2 separate regions of the Homo sapiens genome follow, and region 1 is linked to region 2. The links come from fine-mapping of genetic effects on gene expression. Tissue or cell type: prefrontal cortex. Region 2 holds a variant in brackets; the other region holds the start of a gene. All regions are shown on one strand. Distances are from middle to middle.

Region 1 (8,000 bases), 34 kb before region 2:
GTAGTATAAATATGGAGTATCTTCTTAAAGTAACAGTTTTTTTCTAGTTGAAATTTGAGAATATATATATGTTATATATAATTATTATATGTAATATATAAATGATATATATGTAACATTAAAAAGTATATTTTTTTTCTGGTAAGCATAAAGAATGGATGCTGTAAATATCAGCTTTCCCAAAAGCAAAAGACAGGAGTGTTCTCTTTTGTTAAAAGCCGTGGGCCTAATATTAAGTCTTAGTTTTGTAATGTAATTTAGTTTAGGTACTAGATAACACAGATAAGTCCTAGAAATTGTTCAGCATGTCCCTTGGACAGTATCTTCTTAAATATTGCTTCAGTTGACCCTAAAATAGAAAAGAAATCAGAATCAATATCCAAATATTTGGTGTGATTAAAGGGAAATTGATACTTGCCTATAGATGGCAATTTTTTGTTTTTGTGTGGAAATTTAAAAATCTGATTTGTATTTTGAAGCTAGTTGAAAAGTATCTGGTAACCTGCTTAGGGTTTCTTACAAAACAGTTTTTGGTATGATGGAATGCTCAAACAAGTCTGAAATTAAGCCCAGGAGTTCTGTAACTAAAACATCCTTCTAGGAATTTATCCCAAGACACACCTGTATGAAACAACAACTAAGAAGAGCTGACATTTGCTGAGCTTTTACTACGTTTCATACTCTGTTATAAGTAGTCTGCATGGATTATCTCCTTTCATTCATACAACAACTTTATGAGTTCTACTGCTATCCTCATTTCATAGATGAGAAAACGATGGTTAGAATGTGCCCAGGTTAACGTTGCCCTATTTGGCTAATAAAAATACAGGATGCCTGGTTAAACTTGAATTTCAAATAGACAATAACATTTTACTGTACATATGGCTACATTCTGAATGTGTCTTCCATAATTCATGTTGAAACAACTGACAAAGCAACAGCACTACAGTTTGAATACCTTTTATCCCCACCAAAATTCATGTTGAGGCTTGGACCCCAGGGTAACAGTGTTGAGACAGAGTAGGACCTTTAAGAGGCATTTGAGCCATGAGGGACCAGCCCCCCATGAAAAGATTAACGCAGTCACTGAGAGTTCCCAGTCTCTTGAGACTGGATTAGGTACCTTGAGAGCGGGTTGTTAATAAGTAACATTGCCCCTTTAGCCAGTGCGCGCTTCCTCTTCCGATTCTCTGCCACGTTATGATGTAGCACAAAGCCCTCACCAGCAGCCTACCAGATACGGCTGCTGGATCTTGTACTTCCCAGCCTCCAGGAGAGTGGGAAAACAAATTTGTTTTTAAACTACCTAGTCTCAGGTATTTTATTATGGCAGCACAGATGAAGACAAGCCTCTCACATATTGCACAGGATATACTTAAACCACAAAATTATTCTTAATCTGGAATTCAAATTTCAGGCCATCCTGTATTTCATCTGGCAACTGTATCCAAGGACAAACAATAACACGGCCCTTACATGATCCTAATCAGCGTGGCCTCAAAGATTGTGTTTAACCAGAATGATACGCTGAAAAGAGCATTTTAGTGTCATTCTGTATGATAGTGAAAAATTGGAGCTAACCCAAATCCTCAATTACGAGAATAATGGTTAAGTAATTATTGCACATTAATCAGGTAGAATAGTATTTAAAGTAATAAACAGATGCATCTCATACTCATCAGGTTGGCAAATATTTAAATATCTGATACTATCAAGGGTCAGGAGAAGATGAAACAATGGAAATTTACATGCCCTGATTAATCCTAGAGCATGATTTCAAATGTTAATTTGTGTATAAATCACCTGGAAATCTTGGTAAAAATGCAGATTTTAATTAAGTAGGTGGAGCACAAGACTCCCCATTTCTAACACACTCCAGGTGACGTTGGTGTCGCTTGTTGCTGGACCACCATTTGAGTAGTGAGGCCCTAAAGGTCTGGTCTTCAAACTCTTTTGCTTGAGTATATACTAAAATAATAAGGTTTAAATACAAGAACTTAGTATCCCCTTATACATATTTAAGGTGATATTTAACATTTTTCATTACTAGTTTAGGTAGTTGGAAGGATTACTTTCTGGAAACATATTTATGTATTTAAATAAACTTGTAATACACTTTTAAATATACCTAGTAGACTTTGCCCTAGTTTGCCTGCCACTGCTGTGAATAGTTTCTGAGGGGGATCCCAGCAGGATTGATCCCCAATGACGCTTATTTGATATTATACTATGTATATTTTACATGAGCTGCAACCATTGAAGGAAACTGGGCAAAGATACCTGTGTGCTGTCTGCACTGCCCTTGCAAGAGAAACCAGTACCTGAAATATCTGTCAATCTCCAATCAAGACACAAGCATGGTAGAAGGAGTCAAAAGCATTCAACTTGGCACCCAGCAGCAGTTCTCTTTGGCTGAGGGAAGTGGCCACAAGACTCAGCTGGGGGCCATCAGCGGCCTACACACCCAACAACTGGAGAAATGAGTCCTCAGTCCTTAAGGGGAAACCTGGGTGGTACAACATGGCATCCCCTACACCCTGACAACCCCATGGGGTATCTGTGGAAGAGGGGCTGGGGAATGTGGTTAGCTCAGTTCAGCTCAAGAAGGCCACTACTTTGGTTCAGGTGGTGCTCTTTAATTTATAGTAGCTGTAGAAGTTCCTCCATTGCTACGCGTGTACCCCATCAGACTTTAATTGTGAAGCAATGAGTTCTTTAAAAAAGTTCAAAAATATTCTTAACCAAGTGGGATTTATTTCAGAAATGCAAAGAAGATTAGTATTAAGATATTCTTCAATATAACTTGGCATTATTGGCCAAAGATGAATGCCCACACCATTTTTCTTAAAAATTGCCAATTCCCCTTTTATGGTATTTGTATACATTGCACTATTATCACCAAGGTATGAGTGTTTTTTTCACCACTTCTCTCTTTACACCTTAATCTACATTTTCTTCTATCACAAGTGGCGTTTAACTTCTTTTAATATGTTTAAGGGCATTTGTCTTTTTTTTTTTTTTTCACTTATGGGGTCTCGCTGTATTGCCCAGGCTGGAGGGCAGTGGCTATTCACAGGCGCGATCCCGCTACCGATCAGCACAGGAGTTTTGCCCTGCCCGGTTTCCGAGCTGGGCCAGTTCCCCACTCCTTGGGGAACCTGGTGGTCCCTGCTCCCGGGAGGTCACCACACCGATGCGGAACACAGATGCGTGTCGCCGCGCAATGGGCACAGCGCATACAGCGCAGAGCTCCCGGGCTCAAGCGCTGCTCCCGCCTCAGCCTCCGGAGTAGCCGGGGCCACAGGCAGGGCATTTGTCATTAATGGGGTCTTTTGAGACCGCGGGTGACAGACAACAGGAGCCAGGCCACGCGCGGCGCCTCTGCGCGAACGCTAGGGAGGACTCAGCGCGCGGCGGCCGGTGACGTCAGGGCAGCGAGAGGTTTCGTCACCGCGGCGCGGGGGCGGGGCCGCCTGTCACGCGGCGCCGGCGGACGCGCGGCGCTGGGCGGAGGCAGCGGCTCGGGGACTGGGCGAGGGCCCTGGGCCTGAGGAGGCGCGGCCGCCACTGCGCCCAGCGCCTGCGCGACGCCTGGCTGCTGGGCCCCGGGGCAGTTCAGCCCGCGCCGCTCCTGCGGGTCGGACTGGGGCTGTGGCGGGAGAGAAGATGCCGCAGCCCGAGTCCCAGAAGGCGGCGATCCTGGGCTGCGGGCAAGGCGGTGAGTACCCTCTAGGCGGCGGCCTCCCGGCGTCCCTCAGCACCTCGAGAGCTGCGGCGGCGGCGGCGCGCGGGGCCTGGGCAGGCTGGGGGCGGCGGCGGGGCAGCGCCTGGCTCCCCGCGGGTCCTGGGCTCCCGCACGCCCCCTGGGCGAGGCTCGTGTCTCCGGGAGACGCCGCTGCCCCCGCGCCTCCCCCAGCGTCTCCTGAGGCTTGTTCGCGGGCGTGGGGGCGAGGACCAGGGCGCTGGCCTCGTTTTCGCGTATTTAGGACGGAGGCACACCTGATCCTGCAGCCTCCCCCAGCATTTCCTAAAATGAAGTCCAGATCAGTATTGTCCACTTTTTAAAATTAAAAGTGCCCAGAAATAGAATAGTTCACACATACACAAAACTAGGGAGAATAGTGTGGAAGGAAATTTAATCTCGGGACCCCAAATCACTAAGCCAAAGTCAAGCTGGGAGCTGCGTCAGGCAAACCTGCCCCTAAGTTTTGTTCCTAAGACAGCTGCAAAGATAAAAAGCCACACAGCTCCCTCACCCTTTGGCCAGGAGGAAATTCGCTGTGGACCTCCACATCTTTACCCTGAAACAGTTGTGTGGAATTGCACCCTGGCAGTGTAAATTGACAGCTTGTCTTCGCAGGTGAGGAACAGGGACAGAACTCAAGTCATCCTTCTGCTCACCTGAGACAGATGCATGTCTGACGGCTTCCTCTGCCCTGTATTTATGTAAAAATGCAGATTCACTGAGCCAGACTAAGGCACAAGTGGCTATTCCTCTGCCTGCCCCATGGCGTAAATTGTGTGTTCAGTAAAAGGCAGAGCAGAGGCTCAAAAGAATGTAGCCGTTTGTCTCTCATCTTACCCATGACCTGGAAGCCGCCACTTTGAGTTGTCCCACCTTTCCTGCCCGAACTAGTCTATACCTGTATTTGATTGAAGACTCATGTTCCCCTACAATGTATAAAACTAGGCTGTGCCCCCACCACCTTGGGTACATGCTCTCAGGATCTCTTGAGGGCAGTGTCATGGGCCATAGACACTCATTTCGCTCAGAATAAATCTCTTTAAAAATTTTTTTATTAGCCGGGTGCGGTGGCTCACGCCTGTAATCCCAGCACTTTGGAAGGCCAAGGCGAGCGGATCACGAGGTCAGGAGATCAAGACCATCCTGGCTAACACGGTGAAATCCCGTCTCTACTAAAAATACAAAAAATAAGCCGGGCGTGGTGGCAGGCGCCTGTAATCCCAGCTACTTGGGAGGCTGAGGCAGGAGAATGGCGTGAATCGAGGAGGCAGAGCTTGCAGTGAGCCGAGATCACGCCACTGCACTCCATCCTGGGTGACAGAGCGAGACTCCATCTCAAAAAAATTTATTTTTAATTTTTGTGGGTACATAGTAGGCATATGTATTTATAGGTACATGAGATATTTGATATGGCATAGAATGCATAATCACATCAGGATAAGCAGGGTATCCATCTTCTCAAGCATTTATCCTTTGTTAGTGCTACAAACAACCTGCAAGGCTCTTGTATTGGTTTGAACCCCGATGACGCACCAACAACCCCCACGACATGAGGCGGTGTGGAGCAACATGCTGTTTTAATAAGCGCCTGGGTGCAGACGGGTTTATGCCTAAATGGCATCAGCCCCAAGTGAGGAATGGGTTTTATAATAGCATCAGCCCCAAGTGAGGAAGGGGTTTTATAGTCCTCTGTAAGCAGGAAGTGTCCCAGTCTGACGTGGCTGCTGCGTAAATGTGTCCGGAATTGGTTCCTTCCAGTGGATTCTTGGTCTCGCTGACTTCAAGAATGAAGCCACGGACTGTCGCGGTGAGTGTTACAGTTCTTAAAGATGGTATGTCGAGAGTTTGTTCCTTCTGATGTTCAGATGTGTCCAGAGTTTCTTCCTTCTGGTGGGTTCGTGGTCTTGCTGACTTCAGGGATGAAGCCGCAGACCTTTGCAGTGAGTGTTACAGCTCTTAAAGGTGGCACGTCTGGAGTTGTTTTTTCCTCCCAGTGGGTTCATGAGCTCACTGACTTCAGGAGTCAACCTGCAGACCTTCGCAGTGAGTGTTACAGGTCTTAAAGGTGGCATGTCGAGAGTTGTTTGTTCCTCGCAGTAGGTTTGTGGTCTCACTGACTTCAGGAGTGAAGCCACAGACCTTCACAGTCAGTGTTACAGCTCATAAAGTTAGTGCAGACCCAAAGAGTGAGCAGCAGCAAGATTTATTGCAAAGAATGAAAGAGCAAAGCTTCCACAGCATGGAAGGGGACCCGAGCAGGTTGCCGCTGCTGGCTCCAGTGGCCTGCTTTTATTCCCTTATTTGGCCCCACCCACATCCTGCTGATTGGTCCATTTTACAGAGAGCTGATTAGTCCATTTTAGAGTGCTGATTGCTCTGTTTTACAGAGTGCTGATTGGTCTGTTTTACAGAGTGCTAATTGGTCGGTTTTTACAGAGTGCTGATTGGTGCGTTTACAAACCTTTAGCTAGACACAGAGCGCTGATTGGTGCATTTACAATCCTTTAGCTAGACAGAAAAGTTCTCCAAGTCTGCTACCCAGTTAGCTAGTCACAGAGCACTGATTGGTGCATTTACAATCCTTTAGCTAGACTGAAAAGTTCTCCAAGTCCCCTACCCGATTAGCTAGACACAGAGCACTGATTGGTGTGTTTACAAACCTTTAGCTAGACACAGAGCCCTGATTGGTGCATTTACAATCCTTTAGACAGAGTAGTTCTCCAAGTCCCCACCCGACCCAGAAGCACAGCCAGCTTCACCTCTCAATCCCCCCCCTCTAAACAGGACACCCCAACTGCTGTTGGGAATTTGGCCAATGACTGCTGTAGCTACTTCCTGCTGGATAGGGGTGAAGAAGGGGCCCTGCAATTGTAGTGTCCTCCAGAGGGGAACTCTTTAGGCCAGTGAAAGGGCCAGCAGGTTGGTCCAGGGGTCCTGGTAGAAGTTTAGTTGAGCTCATTTGGAGTTCCATTTGTAAGACCATCTGTAGCTTGATGGTCTCAATTCTAGAGGAAACAAATTTGAAAAGGAGGTTAAAAATACAGGGCCCGAAGGCAAGTAATAGCAAGATGGCTGCCACAGGACCTAGAAAGGGGAGAAGCCATGTTGTCCAACTCCAGAGGTTGGTGTAAGAGTTTGAAAGGCGTCTGATTTCAGAAGCCTTTTCCTATAAATGTTGGGTGGCATCTCATACTATCCCTGACTGGTTAGTGTAAAAACAACACTCTTCCCCTAAGAAGGTGCAGAGTCCTCCTTTCTCAGCAGTGAGGAGGTCTAGGCCTCGGTGGTTTTGGAGAGTCATTGCTGCCAAAGAGTCTATTTGGAATTGTAGTTACTATCCTTACTGGATAGATTTTGTTATTTCTTGCAAACTCTCTTGAGAAATCCTTTGAGAGTGTGGTAGTAGGATAATGAAGTAGGTAAACTGGCTATTCCAGTTCCTGTAGCAGTGGCCATTTCTAACCCTATAGGTAGGGGTATTAGTTGTATGGCTCTGCACTGACGGACTTGAGCTTTGAGGGGTACTGATAGGGTCTGATTTCCACAAGATTAGAAGTTAGAATAATATATGTTTACACTGTTAACTTTTAGCAAACTTTACTTTTGTTGAAAACCTTGTAAGTTTGGGATTTCAATTATTCTTTGCTATTAATAAGACCTCGTTCAGTCCATATTAACTTAGAATTGATATAGATGGCTCCTTCCTGATTCTGTAAGTACTTTAAGGTTTGGCTGAGTGCAAACAGCTCGCACATTTGAGCAAACCAATTATTAGGCAGTTTTCCTAACTCTGCTTCTACAGTTCCCTTATCATTTACTGAATACCCCTTGTGTCTTTTTTCCTTAATCACCCAGGAGGAACCATCTATGGTCCTGTCCTGAAGGGAGTTCCTCCTAGATCTGGTCGGACCTTTGTATGGTAGTTAGTTAAGATTTAGATCCCCTGTTAGGAAACCTGCTGGGTTAAGGATTTTTGATAGGAAGGCTATGGGTTGTCAGTGGCCTCAGTGCTTTTGGGCTACGCCCTTGTTTACACTGACAACAAGGTGGTATTGGAGTGTTACAGAGTTACAGAGAAGGCCTTCAATTATCAGTTATAGGTTTTAACTTTACTGTGGCTTTTAAAGGAATAGGGTGTAGGGTCCAGCCCCACAGGGTCGGTGGGTTTTTTCCCCGTGTGCGGAGACGAGAGAGTGTAGAAATAAAGACACAAGACAGAGATAAAAGAAAAGACAAGAGGTAGAGGAGTAGAGTC
Region 2 (8,000 bases):
TTGGAGTGAAGAGACTACAACTTAACCACTGGCAAAATCCATCCTCAGACTACTCTGCATGTCTACACACCCTTCTACACACATGTCCATGTGAGCATTCCCTTACCTAGAGACTACATTGTAACATTACAATGAAATTTGTATTAAATAATGAAGAAGCAGAAGTAAAAAGAAAATAGTTAACATATACAGAGACACACACCAAACCCATGAGAATGGACTCTGGAGGCTGTGTCCTTTGACTCCATGGACAAGACTCAACTAAATCATGTGGACACATTATAACCTCTAGAAACCAATATGCATACAGAACCCTGCACCTGGGTGTCAGGTGTCAGGGTTAAAGGAACGGTAGTTTGTTGGGTCAGATACTTTTTTTTTTTTTGAGACAGGTTCTTGCTTCACCTACTCAGGCTGGAGTGCAGTACATGATCACTTGGCTCACTGCAGCCTTGACCTCCCCAGGCTCAAGTGATCCTTCCACCTCAGCCTCCCAAGTAGCTGGGACCACAGGTGTGTGCCAGCATGCCCAGCTATTTTTTTTTTTTTTTTTTTTTTTGGTGTTCTTTGTAGCGACAGGGTTTTGCGATGTTGCCCAGGCCAGTCTTGAATTCCTGGGCTCAAGCTGTGTGCCTGCTGGGCCTCTCAAAGTACTGGGATTACAGGCATGAGCCACTGCACCTAGCCCAGATACTTTCTTTTTTAAAAAGCATATCATGGAAATTTTCAGACATGAAGAAAGTAATAGATTTTAAAAAATCTATTAGTAATTTTTTTTTTAACCTATAGCCCTGCCCTTCTTGGTTAATTGAAGCAAATCTCAGATATTAGATGATTTTTCCTTTTTTTTTTTTTTGAGATGGAGTTTCACTCTGTTGCCCAGGCTGGAGTGCAGTGGTGCCATCTCGGTTTACTGCAACCTCTGCCTCCCAGGTTTGAGCTATTCTCTTGTCTCAGCCTCCTAAGTAGCTGGGATTACAGGCGCCTGCTACCATGCCCGGCTAAATTTTGTATTTTTAGTAGAGATAGGGTTTCACCATGTTGGCCAGGCTGGTCTCAAATTCCTGACCTCAAATGACCCACCCGCCTCAGCCTCCCAAAGTGCTGGGATTGTAGGTGTGAACCACCGTGCCCGGCCAGAATTAGATGATTTTGGTGATGCAAAATAATCTATGTCCTGACCCCCGTTCTTTTTAAAATAAACTTTTAGTTTTAGCGTAGCCTTAGATTTACAGAATATTGTGAAGATAGTAGAGAATTCCCACATATCCCATATCCAATTTCCCCTGTTATTAACATCTTACATTAATATGGTACGTGTATTTCAGTTAATGCTAATGTCCATACTGTATTCAGATTTTCTTAGTTTTTACCTAATGTGCTTTTGCTGTTCTAAGGACAATAGGTAAAAGCTAAGGCTCTCATGCAGGATACCACACTGTATTTGGTCATTGTGTCTCCTTAGGCTCTTCTTGGCTGTGACAGTTTCTCACACTTTCCTCGTTTTTGATGACCCTGACAGTTTTGAGAAATACAGGCATATGCTGGTGATACTGTGGGTTCGGTTCTGAGCCACTGCAATAAAGGGACTATCACAAAGTGAATCACACACATTTTTTGGGGGGGTGCATATAAAAGTTATGTTTACACTATACCGTAGTCTTTTAAGTGTGCAATAGCATTATAGCTTAAAAAAAAAGCCCAATGTGCATGCCTTAATTTTAAAAATGCTTTATTGTTCAAAAATGCTAATGATCATCTGAGCCTTCAGTGAGTGGTAATCTTTTTGCTGGTGAGAGTCTTGCCTTAACATTGATGCCTGCTGATGCTTCCTGAAGGTTAGGATGGCTGTGGCAAGTTCTTTTTGTTTTGTTTTGTTTTGTTTTGTTTTTTTGAGATGGAGTCTTGCTCTGTTGCCCAGGTTGGTGCCATCTCGGCTCACCGCAACCTCTGCCTCCCGGTTCAAGCGATACTCCTGCCTCAGCCTCCCGAGTAGCTGGGACTACAGGCATGCGTCACCATACCCGGCTAATTTTTTTGTATTTTTAGTAGAGATGGGGTTTCACCATGTTGGCCAGGCTGGTCTCAAATTCCTGACCTCAAATGATCCGCCTGTCTCGGCCTCCCAAACTGCTGGGATTACAGGCGTGAGCCACTGTGCCTGGCCAAGTTCTTAAAATAAGACGGAAGTAAAGTCTGACTCATCGATTGACTTTCCATTCATGAAAGATTTTTCTGTAGCTGTTTGATAGCAATTTACCCACAGTAGAACTTCTTTCAAAATTAGAGTCAATCCTCTAAAACCCTGCTGCTACTTTATCAACTAAATTTAGTAATCTGCTTTTTGTTATCGTTTCAACAGTGTTCACAGCATCATCACCAGGAGCGATTCCATTTCAAGAAACCATTTATTTGCACATCCATATCTTCCGTCTCTATTTCTAATTCTGGTTCTCTTGCTATTTCCACCCTATCTGCAGTGACGTACTCCACTGAAGTCTTGAACCTGTCGGTCAAGGTTGGAACCAACTTCTTCTAAACTCCCGTTAATATTGACATTTTGTAGTTCTGGCAAATGTGGAATAAAAAAATAAATGATATTTTGACCTCCTCGAATGAATGGGTTTTTGTTGTTGTTGTTTTGTGAGATACAGTTTTGCTTTGTCACCCAGGCTGGAGTGCAGTGCTGCAGTCATAGCTCACTGCAGCTTCAAACTTCTGGGTTCAAGCAGTCCTCCCGCCTCAGCCTCCCGAGTTGTTGGGACTACAGGCATGTGCCACCATGCCCAACTTTTTTTTTTGTATTTTTTTTTTGTAGCGATTGGGTCTCACTCTGTTGTCCAAGCTGGTCTTGAACTCTAGGCCTCAAGTAACCCTCCCACCTCCACCTCCAAAAGAGTTGGGATTACAGGCATGAGACACCATACCTGGCTATAAATGTTCTTAATGGCATCTAGAATGATAAAGCTTTTCCAGAAAGTTTTCAATTTATTTTGCACAGATCCACCAAAGGAATCACTGTCTGTGACAGCTATAGTCTTACGCAATTTATTTCTTAAATAATTAGACTTGAAAGTAGAAATTACTCCTTGATCCATGGGCTGCAGAATGGACAGTGTGTTAGCAGGCATGAAAACAACATTTATCTCCTTGTATATATCCATGAGAGTTTTGGGGTGACTAGGTATGTTGTCAGTGAGCAGTGATATTTTGAAAGCAATCTTTCTGATTAGTAGGTCTCAACAGTGGGCTTAATATATTCAGTAAATCATGCTGTAAAACAGATGTTCTGTCATCCAGGCTTTGTTGTTCCATTTCTAGAGCACAGGCAGAGTAGATTTTGCATAATTCTTAAAGGCCCTGAGATTTTCAGAATGGTAAGTGAGCATTGGCTTCAACTTAAAGTCACCAGCTGCATCAGCCCCTAACAAGAGAGTCACCCTATTTGGAAGCCGGACATTGATATCTCTAGCTATGAAAGGTTCTAAATGGCATCTCCTTCCAATAGATGGCTGTTTAGTCTGCATTGAAAATATATTGTTTAGTGTAGCCATCCTCATCAGTGATCTTAGCTAGATCTTTTGGATAACTTGCTGCAGCTTCTCCATCAGCACTTGCTGCCTCACCTTACACTTTTATGTTGTGGAGATGATATCTTTTTAAACCTCATGAGCAATTCTTTGCCAGTTTCAAACATTTCTTCTGCAGCTTCCTTACTTTTCTCAGTCTGCATAGAATTGAAGAGAATTAGGGACTTGCCCTAAGACTGGTTTAAAGGAATATTTTGGCTGGTTTGATCTTCTATCTGGAGCACTAAAGCTTTCTCCATATCCGCATTGATGCTGTGTCACTTTCTTATTCCTGTGTTCACTGGCATAGCACTTTTAATTCCCTTCAAGAATTTTCCTTTGCGTTCACAACTTGGCTGTTTGGTGCAAGAGGCCTAGCTTTCAGCCCATCTTGGCTTTCCACATGCCTTCCTCACTAAGCTAAATTACTGGTAGTTTTTTTTTTTATATATATATACTTTAATTTCTAGGGTACATGTGCACAACGTGCAGGTTTGTTACATATGTATACATGGGCCATGTTGGT[G/A]TGCTGCACTCATTAACTCGTCATTTACATTAGGTATATCTCCTAATGCTATCCCTCCCCCCCCTCCACCCCACGACAGACCCTGGTGTGTGATGTTCCCCTTCCTGTTTCCAAGTGTTCTCATTGTTCAATTCCCACCTATGAGTGAGAACATGCGGTGTTTGGTTTTTTGTCCTTGCAGTAGTTTGCTGAGAATGATGGTTTCCAGCTTCATCCATGTCCCTACAAAGGACATGAACTCACCCTTTTCTATGGCTGTATAGTATTCCATGGTGTATATGCGCCACATTTTCTTAATCCAGTCTATCATTGATGGACATTTGGGTTGGTTCCAAGTCTTTGCTATTGTGAATAGTGACACAATAAACATACGTGTGCATGTGTCTTTATAGCAGCATGATTTATAATCCTTTGGGTATATACCCAGTAATGGGATGGCTGGGTCAAATGGTATTTCTAGTTCTAGATCCTTGAGGAATCACCACACTGTCTTCCACAATGGTTGAACTAGTTTACAGTCCCACCAACAGTGTAAAAGTGTTCCTATTTCTCCACATCCTCTCCAGCACCTGTTGTTTCCTGACTTTTTAATGATCGCCATTCTAATTGGTGTGAGATGGTATCTCATTGTGGTTTTGATTTGCATTTCTCTGATGGCCAGTGATGATGAGCATTTTTTCATGTGTCTATTGTCTGCATAAATGTCTTCTTTTGAGAAGTGTCTGTTCATATCTTTCGCCCACTTTTTGATGGGGTTGTTTGTTTTTTTCTTGTAAGTTTGTTTGAGTTATTTGTAGATTCTAGATATTAGCCCTTTGTCAGATGAGTAGATTGTAAAATTTTTCTCCCATTCTGTAGGTTGCCTGTTCACTCTGATGGTAGTTTCTTTTGCTGTGCAGAAGCTCTTTAGTTTAATTAGATCCCATTTGTCAATTTTGGCTTTTGTTGCCATTGCTTTTGGTGTTTTAGACATGAAGTCCTTGGCCATGCCTATGTCCTGAATGGTATTGCCTAGGTTTTCTTCTAGGGTTTTTATGGTTTTAGGTCTAACATTTAAGTCTCCAATCCATCTTGAATTAATTTTTGTATAAGGTGTAAGGAAGGGATCCAGTTTCAGCTTTCTACTTATGGCTAGCCAGTTTTCCCAGCACCATTTATTAAATAGGGAATCCTTTCCCCATTTATTGTTTTTGTCAGGTTTGTCAAAGATCAGATGGTTATAGATGTGTGGTATTATTTCTGAGGGCTTTGTTCTGTTCCATTGGTCTATATCTCTGTTTTGGTACCAGTACCATGCTGTTTTGGTTACTGTAGGCTTGTAGTATAGTTTGAAGTCAGATAGCATGATGCCTCCAGCTTTGTTCTTTTGGCTTAGGATTGTCTTGGCAATGTGGGCTCTTTTTTGGTCCCACATGAACTTTAAAGTAGTTTTTTCCAATTCTGTGAAGAAAGTCATTGGTAGCTTGATAGGGATGGCATTGAATCTATAATTATCTTGGGCAGTATGGCCATTTTCACGATATTGATTCTTCCTATCCATGAGCATGGAATGTTCTTCCATTTGTTTGTGTCCTCTTTTATTTCATTGAGCAGTGGTTTGTAGTTCTCCTTGAAGAGATCCTTCACATCCCTTGTAAGTTGGATCCCTAGGTATTTATTCTCTTTGAAGCAATTGTGAATGGGAGTTCACGCATGATTTGGCTGTCTGTTACTGGTGTATAAGGATCCTTGTGATTTTTGCACATTGATTTTGTATCCTAAGACTTTGCTGAAGTTGCTTATCAGCTTAAGGAGATTTTGGGCTGAGACGATGAGGTTTTCTAAATATACAATCATGTCATCTGCAAACAGGGACAATTTGACTTCCACTTTTCCTAATTGAATACCCTTTATTTCTTTCTCCTGCCTGATTGCCCTGGCGAGGACTTCCAACAGTATGTTGAATAGGAGTGGTGAGAGAGGGCATCCCTGTCTTGTGCCAGTTTTCAAAGGGAATGCTTCCAGTTTTTGCCCATTCAGTATGATATTGGCTGTGGGTTTGTCATAAATAGCTCTTACTATTTTGAGATACATCCCATCAATACCTAATTTATTGAGAGTTTTTAGCATGGAGGGCTGTTGAATTTTGTCAAAGGCCTTTTCTGCATCTATTGAGATAATCGTGTGGTTTTTGTCTTTGTTCCGTTTATATGGTAGATTACGTTTATTGATTTTCATATGTTGAACCAGCCTTGCATCCCAGGGATGAAGCCCACTTGATCATGGTGGATAAGCTTTTTGATGTGCTGCTGGATTTGGTATGCAAGTATTTTATTGAGGATTTTTGCATCGGTGTTCATCAGGGATATTGGTCTAAAATTCTCTTTTTTTGTTGTGTCTCTGCCAAGCTTTGGTATCAGGATGATGCTGGCTTCATAAAATGAGTTAGGGAGGATTCCCTCTTTTTCTATTGATAGGAATAGTTTCAGAAGGAATGGTACCAGCTCCTCCTTGTACTTCTGGTAGAATTCAACTGTGAATCCATCTGGTCCTGGACTTTTTTTTGTTGGTAGGCTATTAAGTATTGCCTCAATTTCAGAGCCTGTTATTTTCCTATTCAGGGATTCAACTTCTTCCTGGTTTAGTCTTGGGAGGGTGTATGTGTCCAGGAATTTATCCATTTCTTCTAGATTTTCAGTTTATTTGTGTAGAGGTGTTTATAGTATTCTCTGATGGTAGTTTGTATTTCTGTGGGATCGGTGGTGATATCCCCTTTATCATTTTTTATTGCGTCTATTTGATTCTTCTCTTTTTTCTTCATTAGTCTTGCTAGCGGTCTATCAATTTTGCTGATCTTTTCAAAAAACCAGCTCCTGGATTCATTGATTTTTTTGAAGGGTTTTTTGTGTCTCTATCTCCTTCAGTTCTGCTCTGATCTTGGTTATTTCTTGCCTTCTGCTAGCTTTTGAATGTGTTTGCTCTTGCTTCTCTAGTTCTTTTAATTGTATGTTAGGGTGTCAATTTTAGATCTTTCCTGCTTTCTTTTGTGGGCATTTAGTGCTATAAATTTCCCTCTACCCACTGCTTTAAATGTGTCCCAGAGATTCTGGTATGTTGTGTCTTTGTTCTCATTGGTTTCAAAGAACATCTTTATTTCTGCCTTCATTTCATTATGTACCCAGTAGTCATTCAGGAGCAGGTTGTTCAGTTTCCATGTAGTTGAGCGGTTTTGAGTGAGTTTCTTAATCCTGAGTTCTAGTTTGATTGCACTGTGGTCTGAGAGACAGTTTCTTATAATTTCTGTTCTTTTACATTTGCTGAGGAGTACTTTACTTCCAACTATGTGGTCAATTTTGGAATAAGTGTGATGTGCTGAGAAGAATGTATATTCTGTTGATTTTGGGTAGAGAGTTCTGTAGATGTCTATTAAGTCCGCTTAGTGCAGAGCTGAGTTCAATTCCTAGATATCCTTGTGAACTTTGTGTCTCATCGATCTGTCTAATGTTGACAGTGGGGTGTTAAAGTCTGCCATTATTATTGTGTGGGAGTCTAAGTCTCTTTGTAGGTCTCTAAGGACTTGCTTTATGAATCTGGGTGCTCCTGTATTGGGTGCATATATATTTAGGGTAGTTAGCTCTTCTTGTTGAATTGATCCCTTTACCGTTATGTGATGGCCTTGTCTCTTTTGATCTTCATTGGTTTAAAGTCTGTTTTATCAGAGACTAGGATTGCAACCCCTGCCTTTTTTTGTTTTCCATTTGCTTGGTAGATCTTCCTCCATCCCTTTATTTTGAGCCTATGTGTGTCTCTGCACATGAGATGGGTCTCCTGAATATAGCACACTGATGGGTCTTGACTCTTTATCCAATTTGCCAATCTGTGTTGTTTAATTGGAGCATTTAGCCCATTTACATTTAAGGTTAATA

Alleles and levels. Positions count from the first base shown, and alleles are read on the strand shown. Sizes are in standard deviations (SD) of each study's normalised expression.
For the expression in prefrontal cortex of the gene that starts at base 3,508 in region 1, allele G in region 2 goes with a lower level than allele A (large effect, 1.2 SD a copy in GTEx).

What was found. PIP is the estimated chance that this variant, and not a neighbour inherited with it, causes the effect.
Region 1: GALNT11 starts here. The variant in region 2 is fine-mapped to the expression of GALNT11 in prefrontal cortex (GTEx, PIP above 0.99). The same link has a PIP of 0.9 or more in hippocampus and visceral fat.

The regions. Positions count from the first base shown.
Region 1 is chr7:152,022,167-152,030,166 of GRCh38, forward strand. It overlaps GALNT11 (polypeptide N-acetylgalactosaminyltransferase 11), which reads left to right and starts at 3,508. Exons shown (of 12, transcript NM_022087.4): 1 at 3,508-3,718. RefSeq lists silencers at 2,198-2,492, 3,343-4,042.
Region 2 is chr7:152,056,469-152,064,468 of GRCh38, forward strand. The region is part of intron 1 of GALNT11 (polypeptide N-acetylgalactosaminyltransferase 11); the gene reads left to right. Among named protein-coding and RNA genes, the nearest start is that of GALNT11, 35 kb to the left of the region's middle. The variant G/A (reference allele first, on the strand shown) is at 4,096.